Homo sapiens: one gene and its partners. The protein of the gene in region 2 purifies or fractionates together with the protein of the main gene of each other region. This does not show direct contact. Each region holds a gene or a part of one and is shown on either strand. Other genes may lie near its edges.

Region 1 (3,572 bases), on a different chromosome or scaffold from region 2:
CTCAGGCAATTTCATAGGTAGACAACAAACAAACAGTGTAAGTGTCTTGATGAGCCTACTCTGAAGGAAATAAGTTCCTTTCCCTGGGTGGGCTTTGGTTTCCTCATCTACCAAAAGACATTATCATGGAGTTGTTGTATGGTAGGTATAGAGTTTCAATTTTACAAGATGAGGAGATTCTGGGGATCTGCTGCACAACAAGGTGAATCTAGTTAACACTACTGAGTGTACACTCAAGAATGACTAAGATGGTATATTTTTATGTTTTGTGTGTGTGTGTGTGTGTGTGTGTGTGTGTGTTTTAAGCACAATTTTAAAAAATAGGCCAGCTGTGGTGCCTCACTCCTTTAATCCCGGTACTTTGGGAGGCTGAGGCCAGTGGGTCACCTGAGGTCAGGAGTTCGAGACCAGCCTGGCCAACGTGGAGAAACCCCGTCTCTACTAAAAATACAAAAATTAGCCGGGTACACGCCTGTATTCCCAGCTGCTCAGGAGGCTGAGGCAGGAGAACCGCTTGAACTCAGGAGGTGGAAGTTGCAGTGAGCCGAGATCACACCACTGCACTCCAGCCTGGGCAGGAAAGCAAGACCTCTGTCTCAAAAAACAAACAAACAAACAAACAAAAAACCCCACAAAGAAAGATGATCATCCTTTCCCTCCTCCTTCAAGGCTTGCTATGAGCATATACTTGTATTATGTAGAAGAGGATTAAAAACTTTTTTTTTATTTTCAAGAAGCAAATATGTACACATAGGTTTAAAAAAAAAAAAAAAGAATGGACGCAGCACATACAGTGAAGGTGAAAGCTCCTAGTCGTCCCAAGCTCCATCCCAGGGCAGGGCAGTTACCATTCAGTTTTCTTAGGTATCATTGGAAAGGGGTTTTAACTGACAGGGAGAGGGAGGGAAATCTCAATCTGGAAGACTCACCAGACTGCTGGCAAATCCACTGGCTCTCAGTCAGTTTCAGGAGTCCCTTTGTGGACACACTAAGGCTCCTCCACCCCCGAGCCTCTTCAGGATGTCTCTGGACACATCTGGGATCTCAGTATTGACTTCGGAGCTGGGAAAGCCCAGAGCTAGAAAGCAGGAGAGAAGGCAGAAAAGGAAGGAACCAGACACAAAGCACAAACTTCAGAACCAGGGTGGATTGCCCAAGGCCAGGCCCCAAGGATTATGCAACAGTCCTGCTGTGGGCTCTGACCCCCTCCCATGGCCCCTCCCCTTCCTGCAGCAGCTGGGTCAGGCCAGCCTAGGGTTGCAGTTAAAGGAACTGTGCAGTGACCAAAGGGCCTCTGATTGCTGTCCCCTACCTCCAGACTTACAGTGTCTTCACTGGGTGACTTCATGAGAAACCTGTTTAAAATGTGGACTCCCACTCAGGGACCAGCTGATGGTGCAGCCTAAAACATTCCCTTTCCTAAGGGTTACCTTAGCAAGGTCCTTTTCGAATCCCAAGGGAATTGACATGAGTGGGAGAATGCCAACTGGCAGCTGGGTTGATATTTTACATAGGAACAAATGATGTGTTACCACCCAATCTATTCAGATAGACAGGATATGAACACGGTCACAGAATGAACACTATCTGTAGCATAGCTTTGTTGTGAAAATTAAAGAACATCATGTAGTGCTTGGCACTAGACACTGCACATACGGTGGTTGTTTTTGTAGAGCAAGGCTGGAAGGGCCTTCAGAGCCCATCTAGGCTATATGCCCTCACTTTACGGTGAAGGAAATGGAAACCAGGGGAGTTGTCCCAGCTCAGCTGCTCCTTGTGTGACTTTGGACATAAGACTTCCCTTTTCTGGGCCTCAGCTTCTGTCCGCATCTGTAAAATGAAGGGGTCTCAGTTGGTTCTAACGTCCTGTGATGATACGAATCATGAAACCATGCTGTGAGACCATGGGAAGTTGGAGAGGCTGATGGGAGAGGCATTTTGGGGGCTTTCTAGAGCTTCTCAAATCCCAAGATAGAGAAGGCTGTGGACCTCTTCCTCACAGGTTAAGATGCTTCTGAGCCCTGGGACTGACTGACATCTAATATCCCAGTCGAGCCAAACTGAGAGATTTACTCATTTTTCCTCTTCACAGCTCACCTGCCAGGATGATCTAGCCTGAGGAGGGGATAGACTCTGCAGAAGGTGGGGGAAGGGGACAGTGTGGAGGGTAGGGTGGGCTTTGAGGCAGGGTTCCATGAGGGGAATAAAGATTCATGAGACCTTTCATGCCTCAGGGTCTCTCTGAATAGACTAGGATGTTTGTGCTTCTGACAGGAGGAGGAAAGGGGCCATAGTTCCACATCTCTAGGTGCTGGGTTTGTATGGGAGGGAAGGCTGGGGTGCCAGGGCCTCCTGTCTGCGTTAGGAGAGGCAGAAAGCTGATGAAGGCACAAGTTGGTTCTCTATGGGGCTCTGGGGCTGCCTCTGGGGCTCAAGCTGGGGACTGGCAGTCAGCAACAGGGGAGTTTTGCCACTGTTTCTGAGCTCCTTGGCTTCCCTGTCCAGGAGAGTCCCTGATTACTGAGATCCTTGGATGGGGGAGATGGAGCTCCTGCCCTGGAGAGGTCTTGCCTTGAAATAGAAGATAGGCCAGTGAGGAAGGAAGGTGAGCAGATGGCCAAGCTGAGAGGGACTTTAAGGATCATCTAGAATCTAGATTCCAGGCCAACCCCTCCATTTCGTAGATGAGGAAACTGAGGCTCAGAAGGGAGAAGTGACTAGTCCAAAATGACATGGCCCATAAATGGCAGCACTCAGACAAGAACCCAGGTGTTTGGGCTACTGTTCAGGTGCTCTTTCCACTACAAATGGCAGTGTTTCCTCACACCTAAGCTTCACATCACACCAGACACAGCCTGTTAGTGTCATGGGGCATCATCTCCTCTAACTTCGTCACTATGGCCTTTTCATGCACCACAGATTCTCGCCAATCTTAGTCAATGATCCAGTGAGATGGAGGTTGGTAAGCTTGGGAGGAGGAGTTAGACTTCGTTTATGCTCTCATCTTCCATGCACCCCACTGCTCCAGACCTACTCCTGATTCCCCAGATGAGCCAGGTTCACTCTCTGTTCCTGCTATTTCCCATACATTCACAGGTTCTCACAAACTGCACTTGCCTTACACTTGTCCAACCCCTAACTTGGAAGTTGGGGAATAAAGCTGTGATCTGAGGGATGAACTGGGGATCTTAGTGGGGTTTTCATTCAGGTTGCTCTGGGGAAAAGTGAAACTCTACCCTTGGGTCTTTCTTTCCCGTCACTCCGTTTCAGCTACTCTTTCAGAATGAGCGTCTTCAGTGTCTGGAAATGAAGTACAGAGAGGTAGGTAGAAAAAGTCACATAAAGCAGGTAGGTGATCCAAAGACAGTTCCTGGGGTGCACAGTTTTACCACTGTCCCCTTGGTGGTCTTACCACTCCTGTGGATTGGAGAGCTGGTGGAGTGGGAGAGGAGTTGAAGGAGTAGCCCTTAGCATCCAGTTGGAAGGACAAAGGAATAGAATCTGAGCTGGAAGAGATCTTCATGATCATGTTGTTGGTGCAACCCCCTCATTCAACCAGTGGGAAAATAGAC
Region 2 (3,572 bases):
TCTTGAGTCCTGCCACCTTGTTACCAAACCGCCTTCCAGGAAGATGTGTGCCTCCACAGCAACGTGTCCGAGCCCCTGATCCAGAGTCAACTGATATTCTTTGGCCTCTCATAGATGTAAATATTTTTTTGAGCTTATCATTTGTTCTACAATTGTTTATAAGAGTTTGGGGAGAGGTTTAACATTTTAACGCAGTCAAATTCTTCAATATGTGTACTGTCTTTCCTTGCTAGGAAGCATAAATAGGGTCTTACTCTGTCGCCGGGGCTGGAGGGCAGTGGCACGATCTTGGCTCACTGCAGCCCCAACCTCATGGGGTCAAGGGATCCTCCTATCTCAGGCCCCTGATTAGTTGGGGCTACAGGCACACTCCACTACACCCAGCTAATTCTTGTCTTTTTTGTAAAAATCAGGTTTCACCATGTTGCCCAGGCTGGTCTTGAACTTCTGGGCTCAAGTGATCTGCCTGCCTAGGCTTCCCAAAGTTCTGAAATTACAGGCGTGAGCCACTGTGCTTGGCTCCCAAAGCGAACGTTTTATATAACTATAGTACCATTATCGACACGAGGAAATGGACTCCGGTACTATGAGTGTATGTACAGCTACGCCATTTAATCAATCACCACCAAAACCAACAATCCCATCTTCCTCCTGCTGCCCTTCAGACACACCCACTCCCTACCCCAACCCCAAAGCCCTGCCCTTCACAGACCCCCTCACTCCCTACCCCAACGCCAAGGCCCTAGCAATCAACAATCTGTCCTCCCTGTCTATAATTTTGTCATTCAGAGAATGTTACAGAAATGGAATCACGGCCGGGTATGGTGGCTCACGCCTGTAATCCTAGCATTTCAGGAGGCCGAGGCAAGCGGATCACCTGAGATCGGGAGTTTGAGGCAAGCGGATCACCTGAGGTCGGGAGTTTGAGACCAGCCTGACCAACATGGAGAAACCCCATCGCTACTAAAAATACAAAGATTAGCTGGGCATGGTGGCGCATGCCTGTAGTCCCAGCTACTCCGGAGGCCGAGGTAGAATTGCTTGAACCCGGGAGACCAAGGTTGCAGTGAGCCAAGATCGTGCCATTTGCACTCCAGCCTAAAAAAAAAAAAAAAAGAAATGGAATCATACAGCATGTGACCTTCTGGGATTGGCTTTTTTCACTCAGCATGGTATTTTTTAATAGCCAATAGAAGTGTTCCATTTCTCTTCTTTTTCAAAATTTTCTTGCAATTAAGTATACTCTACCTTCATGAAAATGTTACAGGCCGGGCGTGGTGGCTCACACCTGTAACACTGGCACTTTGGGAGGCTGAGGCGGGTGGTTCACAAAGTCAGGAGTTTGAGACCAGCCTGACCAACATGGTGAAACCCCGTCTCTACTAAAAATACAAAAATTACCCAGGCATGGTGGCGCACACCTGTAGTCTCAGCTACTCGGGAGGCTGAGGCAGAAGAATTGCTTGAACCCGGGAGGCGGAAGTCACAATGAGCCAAGATTGTGCCACTGCACTCCAGCCTGGGCAACAGAGCAAGACTCCATCTCAAAACAAACAAACAACAAAACGTCACAAAAGTGTTCAAACAGGCTGGGCGTGGTGGCTCACGCCTGTGATCCCAGCGCTCTGGGAGGCCAGGTGCGGTGGCTCACGCCTGTGATCTCAGCACTTTGGGAGGCCGAGGCGGGTGGATCAGCTGAAGCCAGGAGTTTGAGGCCAGCCTAGCCAACGTGGCGAAACCTCATCTCTACTAAAAATACAAAAAAAATTAGCTGGGCGTCATGGCGGGCGCCTGTAATCCCAGCTACTTGGGAGGCTGAGGCAGGAGAATCACTTGAACTTGGGAGGCGGAGGCTACAGTGAGTTGAGACCCGAGATCATGCCATTGCACTCCAGCCTGGGCAACAAGAAGGAAACTCCATTTCAAAAAAAAAAAAAAGTGTTCAAACACACAAGAAAATAGAATAGTGAATGAGCACCTGCACCTATAGAGCACTCAGCTTCAATCAGTATTTTGTTATCTTGTTCTTTCTTCGTTTTTTTCCTGAGTATCTTTTTTTTTTTTGAGATGGAGTCTCACTCCATTGCCCAGGCTGGAGTGCAGTGGGATGATCGTGGCTCACTGCAACCTCTGCTTCCTGGGTTCCAGCTATTCTCTTGCTTCAGCCTCCAAAGTAGTTGGAATTACAGGTGTGCACCACCACACCCAGCTAATTTTTTTGTATTTTTTGTAGAGACAGGGTTTCACCATGTTGGCCATGCTGGTCTCGAACTCCTGACCTCAAGTGATCCACCCGTCTCGGCCTCCCAAAGTGCTGGGATGACAGCATGAGCCACCATGCCTGGCATTCTGAGTATCTTTAAGGAATTTCAGACATATGATTTTACCCATAAATGTTGCAGTGTATTTATTAGATAGGGATTGTGTTTTAGCGTAACTATAATAGCATTCCCACATCTAAGAAAATTAACACGGACTCATCCTCAAATACCCAATCTGACTGTCTCAGGAGTGACGGAGCCCAGGTCTGAGAAAATTAACACTGACTCATCCTCAGATACCCCATCTGACTGTCTCAGGCGTGACTGAGCCCAGGTCTAGGTCGCTCAGATTTCCTTCTAACATCCCCTCCTTTTTTTTCAAGTTCTTTATTTGTGGTAGAATTTCCAACATTGTGGAATAAGGTGACTGTAAATCTGTGATGTTAGTTCTCTATAATGTTTGTATGTTTGTGAATTTTGTAATGCAAAAATTTAAGCATATACAGAAGTAGTAGGGGTAACAGTATAATACATCTATCTGTATTAGTCCGTTTTCATGCTGCTAATAAAGACATACCAGAGACTGAATAATTTACACAGGAAGAAGGTTTAATGGACTTACAGTTCCACATGGCTGGGGACGCCTCACAATCACGGCGGAAGGTAGGGAGGAGCGAGTCACATCTTACATGGATGGCAGCAGGCAGAGAGAGAGCTTATGCAGGAAACTCCCGTTTTTAAAACCATCGGATCTCGTGACACTCATTCACTATCACGAAAACAGCACAGGAAAGACCTGCCCCCATAATTCAATCACCTCCCACCCAGTTCCTCCCACATGTGGGAATTCAAAATGAGATTTGGGTGAGGACACAGCCAAGCCACATCAATATCCTAACAGCTGCCACAGTGATTAACTTATGGCCAAACTTTCTCCCCATCATGGCCCTTCTGTTCTTCTCACTACTGCTTCATAGTAACTTACCCCAAACCTCAGCAGTTTAAAACGATTTTCTTTTCTCTGGATTTTATGGGTTCAGGACACGTTTGGCAGGACAGGTATCACGTGTGGTTGTCCAGGCAGTTGGAGGCATGTGAAGACTCACTGAGACGTACAGGGAAGCTCTTGGGGCTGGACACTGATGCTGGCTCCCCCTGAGGTGCATGCCCCAAGCTGAGAAGACTCAAGGTTCCAGCCAGAGCCTGGAATCACTAAAGGCTTGTTTGCTCACAGGTCTGGCTCCTGGGCTGGAAGGGCTTAGGGACCAGGACTACTAAACTGCAGTGCTTCCCATGTTCAGATTCAGGTCG
Region 3 (2,826 bases), on a different chromosome or scaffold from region 2:
GCTGATTTTGCAAATCACAAAATAAAGGACCAAGGAGGCCAACTTTCAGGTATTACTAGCAACGAATTTTGTAATTAAAAGGCAACACTATATTTTAATGATGGAAAATAATATAAATTTTTGGCATCCAGTAATAAACTTACTTTCGCATCCTAATCATGGTACAGCACAAAGCAAGGAGAAGAGAAATTATATTAAACCATAAATCTTTAGAATATTAATTGCATGTAAAGCACTTCATGGTGTAATCTTAAGTAAATTACTTAAACTCTATGGTCTGTTTCCTTATTTGGAAAACATGGATAATAGTACTTACCTTCATATGTTGAGATTAAGTGAATTAAGGCTCTGCCTAATTTATAGAAAGTGCTTCAAAAATGTTAGGTGATATAGTTACACAATTGAAATCGAAATGATTTAGCATTTATTATTAAACGCAAGTACTATACACCAATTCTACTTATAAAGCTCATATGATGACCTTTTAGTATGTCTGCATAGTAATAAAAATGGGTAAAAATCAGCTTTAGCGAAAAAAGGTATTTTTTTAAAAAGAGTCTAACCTATGAAGTATTCTTGCCCCCTCAAATTGAACCTCAATCTAGTCAGGTTACAGATCTAAATAGAAATGAGGGATATAAGAACAGCTAAACATTGCCATATGAGTATGATGGCCAAATCCATAAGGTAGGACATCCTGCAGCATAAATGACCTCGTTTTAAAAAAAAAAAATGGCAAGGCGGGAAAAAGCAGACGATTTGTTAAAGATTAAAAGAGACTTAAAACGCACATCAATCAGATACAATGTGAGAGTCTTGGTTGGAATCTGATTCTAACAAACCAAATATAAAAAGGCATTTTTCAGACAATTAGGAAAAATTGAGCCAGGCATAAGATAGTAATTATTAATTCCTGTTAATTTTGTGGGGCATGGTACTTTATCTGTTAGGGACACATACTGAAGTATTAAAGACAAACTGACAAGATGTCTAGGGCTTGCTCTAAGATACTGAGGCAAAAATGCGGGGAGTGGTTGGGGAAACAGTATTAAGTTGATGGTTCTTGAAGCTCAGTGATGTGTACACGAGGGTTCTTTATACTATTTCCTATACTCGTGAGTCTTGAAGTTTTCATGATAAAGTTTTTTAAGAAAGTCCAGTGGAAATGATGTAACACCCAAGAGTGATGTAAGCCAATCCCTTTCATTTATATTTAGCCTTAAGCATTAAATACACTGAGAATGACATCTAAATCTCATAAATATTCAAGAAAAATTTAAAATAATTATTTCCATGTAATGTTAAGTAGTTTAAAGGTTCATGTAGCCTTGAATGTATCAATTAAATAATGCCTCCATTGAATTCTACAGTTTACATTCTCAGCTTCTCCATGTAAAAATGCCCCACAGCTACTCCGTGGAGCTGGTCAGACTTTTCCCCATGTGCTCACTGCCTGCAATCTTATATAGCATTTCCTGTAGAGAATCATACTGCTTATCAAATATGCATTATTGAAAATATGTGTCCTTTCTAAAAGGCCTAGTTTCAAAGAATTATTTACACATTTTATTCTTGTGAGACTTGCACAGGTAGAGTTTTAAAATAAATTGTGGTGATAATATAAAATGGAACTTACACATGTTCACACTGAAATTGTAGCTCAAAACTACCCAGAAAAACTATTATCTATCTAAAGTAGTAAAATTTATAGAAACAGAAAGTCGAATGGTGGTTGCCAGGGGCTGGGGGACAGGGAGAAATGGGGAATTGTTGATTAATGGGTATAGAGTTTCAGTTCTGCCAGATGAAAAAGTCCTGCAGATCTGCTGCACAACAATGTGAATAAACTTAACTAACACAACTGAACTGTACACTTAAAACTGCGTAAGATGGTGAATTCTGTGTTATGTGTTTTTAACCACAATTTAAAAAATTTGCCTAGAAAAATGAAAATATAAAACGTTATTTTATGAGGGATGGAAAAGAAAAAGTCATTCACATGAGACGAAGTACATGCAATACTTTTATTTTAGACATGCAAGGAAAGCTATTTCAGAATCTACTAATTTAAAGCAAGCAGCTGTATACAGACAGCAAAAGAAGCAACATTTTGTTACAGCTTAGCACAAGGCATCCAACACAAACAGGCATGAGACAATGCATATTTATGTAGCATTAAAACCAGATGAATAATATATTGTGGGGCAGGAGGAGGAAAGGAGGGGAAAAAAAAATAGAAATGAAAGACCAATGTTTCTCAATGCTTCCAATATATAATGCTAAATTTCCCACCTGATTGATAGCACATCCAGGTGCTTCAAATGTCGTGCATTACAGTGAGAATGTTAAGAATGGAAAATCTTATCTGTGTACCTGCCTAATACTAAGTTTGGTCAAAACACATTTTCATAGATCTTCTTTCAGTGATAAATCGATTTGAACATCTTGTGAAGTTATTGTTTAATAACTTACTTAACTTAGGCTTTATGCTCTCTAGATATAAACAATGAATTCTTTTCCTTTTATAAAAAAATATGCTGCATGTTTTATTAAAAGAATATGCAATAGTTACCAATATTAAAGGTTTTAAAATTCAGAAATATAATGCCACAGTTAACAAAGTATCAAGTATTTAAATGAGGACTTAATATATTAGAATGCCATCACTAGTAAAATATAAGTATTTAGGTATTAAAACTGAATGAATATTAGAATTTTTGAACTATATAAACTCAGCATTAATGCTTTGAAAGAGTTATTATTCAGCAACAGATATTGCAGAACAGACTTCAGACATAGCTCTCTAATAAGTTCTTAAAGGGATTG
Region 4 (3,572 bases), on a different chromosome or scaffold from region 2:
ATGCTTTAATTTTTAAGTTCTTACAGTGAGGATGCCATATATTTAAGCTGTCAAAACAGCTTGTATTTGTACTCTTTTCTAGTGTTGTGGGCCATAATACATATATACTCATGGGCAGTATAACATTTGCCTTCTTAATTTTCTTTTTAAAAGTTGTTGTATTTAATTTATTTTTATTTTTAATTTTTTGAGATGGAGTCTCACTCTGTCACTCAGGCTGGAAAGCAGTGGCGTGATCTCAGCTTACTGCAACCTCCGCCTCCTGGGTTCAAGCGATTCTCCTGCTTCAGCCTCCTGAGTATCTGGGATTAGAGGTGCGTGCCACCATGCCCGGCTTATTTTTGTATTTTTAGTAGAAGTGGGGTTTTTACCATGTTGGCCAGGCTGGTCTGTAACTCCTGACCTCTAGTAATCTGCCCACATTGGCCTCCCAAAGTGCTGGGATTACAAGCGTGAGCCATTGCGCCTGGCCCGTTGTATTTAATTTAAAAAATATATTTGTAATTATTTCTATAAAGTCATGATCAAAATTACTTATGTGTATTAGTCAGATATTTTAAAGGAATGAAAATGATGTAATTTAGAAGAAAATAGCTTAAACCTGTTGTTTCAAGAATTTATATAAGAGACCTGACACTGAATTTTTATGGATTACTTACAAACTAATGTAAACATTTCTTTTTAGTTATTCTTTCTCTTTTAAAGTGTTGATAAGTGAATTTTGTTAGCTATTTGGTTGTTAAGTAAAAACTGGCTTATTTGCTCAAACTTGCAAAGTATCTCTGGAAGAATATTTAGGAAACTGGCAACGTTGCTTTCAGAGAAAGGAAATGGATATCTCGGGGTGGGAAGGGAGGGAAACTTTGAATTTTGAATACCCTTTGAATTTTTGAGTCATGAACTATTAGAAATAAAGTAAATTAAAATTTAACAAGAAAAATGAAAATGAAAGTACTTCGGTTTACAGAACAGAGGTTGATTGAACCTGTCTGGTAGAACCTCCGTGATCAGCTTAGCATTGTCAGTCCTGAAATAATCTTTTGTGACCTCCATGATCAGCTTAGCATTATCCGGCCTGGAATATCTTGAGACTCAGCATACAGCGGATGTATGTAATGGCAGGTGCAAACAAACAGAAAGGTAACCAAATACAAGTATTTATGCTGTACTTACTCTATTAGAATAAATTAGTTAACATAATATATACCTCTTTTTATCAAATTGGAAATTAAACTATTGGATAACTGTTAGATTTTTTTTCCCCCCTATAACTATTAAAATTTTTTTTAAAATCTTGCTACTGCCCATTAGAAAGGATTTGGGAACATTTTTAAAAAATTCTTGCTTCCTTTTTTGTTTGCTTTTAGTTGATGCGGATGAAATTAAAAGGCTAGGAAAGAGATTTAAGAAGCTTGATTTGGACAATTCTGGTTCTTTGAGTGTGGAAGAGTTCATGTCTCTGCCTGAGTTACAACAGAATCCTTTAGTACAGCGAGTAATAGATATATTCGACACAGATGGGAATGGAGAAGTAGACTTTAAAGGTAAGAAAGTAGTTATTTTTTATAACCACAAGTTATCTAACCTATTTGTATTCTTACAGCTCTGTGTAAAAAAAAAAAAAAAGTGCTTATATTCCTAGTGACCTTACAATAATAGATTATGTTAAAACCTCAGCGTCTGTGGCATATACACCTTAATGAACTAGGACATTTTACTCTGTGGTTCATAAATGATTAAGTCATTCTTTAGGATAATCTACCAAAAAGCAGGGGGGACTCAGTATTTCCTTTCTTTTTAGAAAATTAATCTCACTTTAGGGCAATACTGTATATTCTTATATACATTAGAAGCTGCAATTCCTTTTATTTATTTATTTAATTTTTTTGAGATGGAGTCTCGCTCTTTTGCCCAGGCTGGAATGTGGTGGTATAATCTCGGCTCACTGCAGCCTCCGCCTCCTGAGTTCAAGCAATTCTCCTGTCTCAGCCTCTTGAGTAGCTGGGATTACAGGCATGTGCCACCACACCTGGCTAATTTTTGTATTTTTAGTAAAAACGAGATTTCACCATGTTGGCCAGGCTGTGGTCTCGAACTCCTGACCTCAAGTGATCCACGTGCCTCAACCTCCCAAAATGCTGGGATTACAGGCATGAGCCACCGCGCCAAGCCAGTTTTTTTTTTTGTTTGTTTTAACAAGTAAATAAACATTTCACAAGGGATTTGTCAATAGATTTTATTTTAGTTTGGACAATTATAAGTGGAGGGATATAAAACTGATTATGATTTAGTGCTTATCAGGCAGTGAAGAAAAATGATCATTTGTCATGAAACTTCTAACAGCATATTTGATTCACAATTTTGAAACAGAAGGCTAAAGTTTTTTGTGTGTGTCAGAACAATTTATAGTGGGTTTTTTTTTAAAGCCCCTTGTTACAGTCATATTCTAAGAGGGAAGAGTTAAACAACTTAAATAATATGTTTTGAGTGTTCTTTTATCTTGCACTTAACAAATGTTTGTTCAAATTGATTGACCTTAGAGAACTCCAAGTTCAAATAAAAAAAATACAGAGAGACCTTGTTTGTTGAGGTTTCAAATTTGGCAATTTTATTTTTAAACGTTGCTAGTAGTACTTCTGTTTTGCAGCAAGGAAATATCCTTTTGTGGGTATGTAAGGTAAATATGTTTTTTGTGTAAAAAATTGGAAGTTCTGATTTGTGAACATTTTTAACTCTTATTCAGAATTCATTGAGGGCGTCTCTCAGTTCAGTGTCAAAGGAGATAAGGAGCAGAAATTGAGGTGTAAGTATTTTTCTTCACTGACTTCATTCTCTTATACTACCATCATTTCATACTGTATTATAGAATGCTTTTTAAAATAATGAAAAAGATGTCTTTTATTCCAGATCCTTAGACATAACTGAAATTTTACATTCTGGTGAAAATCCTTTTAGGACATTTCCAACTACTATATTTGAATAATGTGTCATTGCTGCTTTTAGTTGGATAGAAGGAAAACAGTTTCTTTCTGCTGAAAACAGCCATGTAAAACTACATATGTAATTTAGAGAAGAGATTTTTTTAGTGAAAGTGGGAAGAAATGTTCTAAAGAACCGGAGAGGTTGGAGTTGTTACTATATCCAGTTTTATCTGTGTAGAAACTGAAGCTTAGCAGGGATAGTTAACCTACTCTAAGCTCCACCAAATCTGCTCAGGCAGTCTCAAAAGCCCGTACGTTTAACCAACTATGTTAAACTGTGCCTAAGGACAACTCTATTTTAAGGAAGGAGACATCCTCATAGTCATAATTTTGATGTTTGTCAGTTTACTATTTTCTTTCTTACTGAAAGCATTTACTTGTGATTGCTTTGTAATTGGAATTGATTTTCCTTCCTTTTTTTTAGTTGCTTTCCGTATCTATGACATGGATAAAGATGGCTATATTTCCAATGGGGAACTCTTCCAGGTATTGAAGATGATGGTGGGGAACAATCTGAAAGATACACAGTTACAGCAAATTGTAGACAAAACCATAATAAATGCAGATAAGGATGGAGATGGAAGAATATCC

Evidence for each region.
Region 1: the proteins of SPATA33 (region 2) and KCNE3 purify together in Homo sapiens (co-immunoprecipitation; one large-scale study listed by IntAct). This does not show direct contact.
Region 3: the proteins of SPATA33 (region 2) and AP1S2 purify together in Homo sapiens (affinity purification with mass spectrometry; one large-scale study listed by BioGRID and IntAct). This does not show direct contact.
Region 4: the proteins of SPATA33 (region 2) and PPP3R1 purify together in Homo sapiens (affinity purification with mass spectrometry; one large-scale study listed by BioGRID and IntAct). This does not show direct contact.

The regions. Positions count from the first base shown.
Region 1 is NC_000011.10:74,461,026-74,464,597, forward strand, and holds part of KCNE3 (potassium voltage-gated channel subfamily E member 3), read right to left. Parts: exon of another isoform or gene 3,237-3,572; intron 1,831-3,236; exon of another isoform or gene 1,657-1,830; intron 1,108-1,656; exon of another isoform or gene 1,079-1,107; 5' UTR 930-1,078; intron 1-929. UniProt on the Homo sapiens protein: Ancillary protein that functions as a regulatory subunit of the voltage-gated potassium (Kv) channel complex composed of pore-forming and potassium-conducting alpha subunits and of regulatory beta subunits.
Region 2 is NC_000016.10:89,660,786-89,664,357, reverse strand, and holds part of SPATA33 (spermatogenesis-associated protein 33), read right to left. Parts: exon of another isoform or gene 2,850-3,572; intron 1-2,849. UniProt on the Homo sapiens protein: Plays an important role in sperm motility and male fertility. Required for sperm midpiece flexibility and for the localization of sperm calcineurin to the mitochondria. Promotes mitophagy as well as acts as an autophagy mediator in male germline cells.
Region 3 is NC_000023.11:15,828,049-15,830,874, forward strand, and holds part of AP1S2 (AP-1 complex subunit sigma-2), read right to left. Parts: exon of another isoform or gene 2,011-2,826; intron 153-2,010; coding exon 144-152; intron 1-143. UniProt on the Homo sapiens protein: Subunit of clathrin-associated adaptor protein complex 1 that plays a role in protein sorting in the late-Golgi/trans-Golgi network (TGN) and/or endosomes.
Region 4 is NC_000002.12:68,186,486-68,190,057, reverse strand, and holds part of PPP3R1 (calcineurin subunit B type 1), read left to right. Parts: intron 1-1,367; coding exon 1,368-1,544; intron 1,545-2,743; coding exon 2,744-2,803; intron 2,804-3,405; coding exon 3,406-3,572. UniProt on the Homo sapiens protein: Regulatory subunit of calcineurin, a calcium-dependent, calmodulin stimulated protein phosphatase. Confers calcium sensitivity.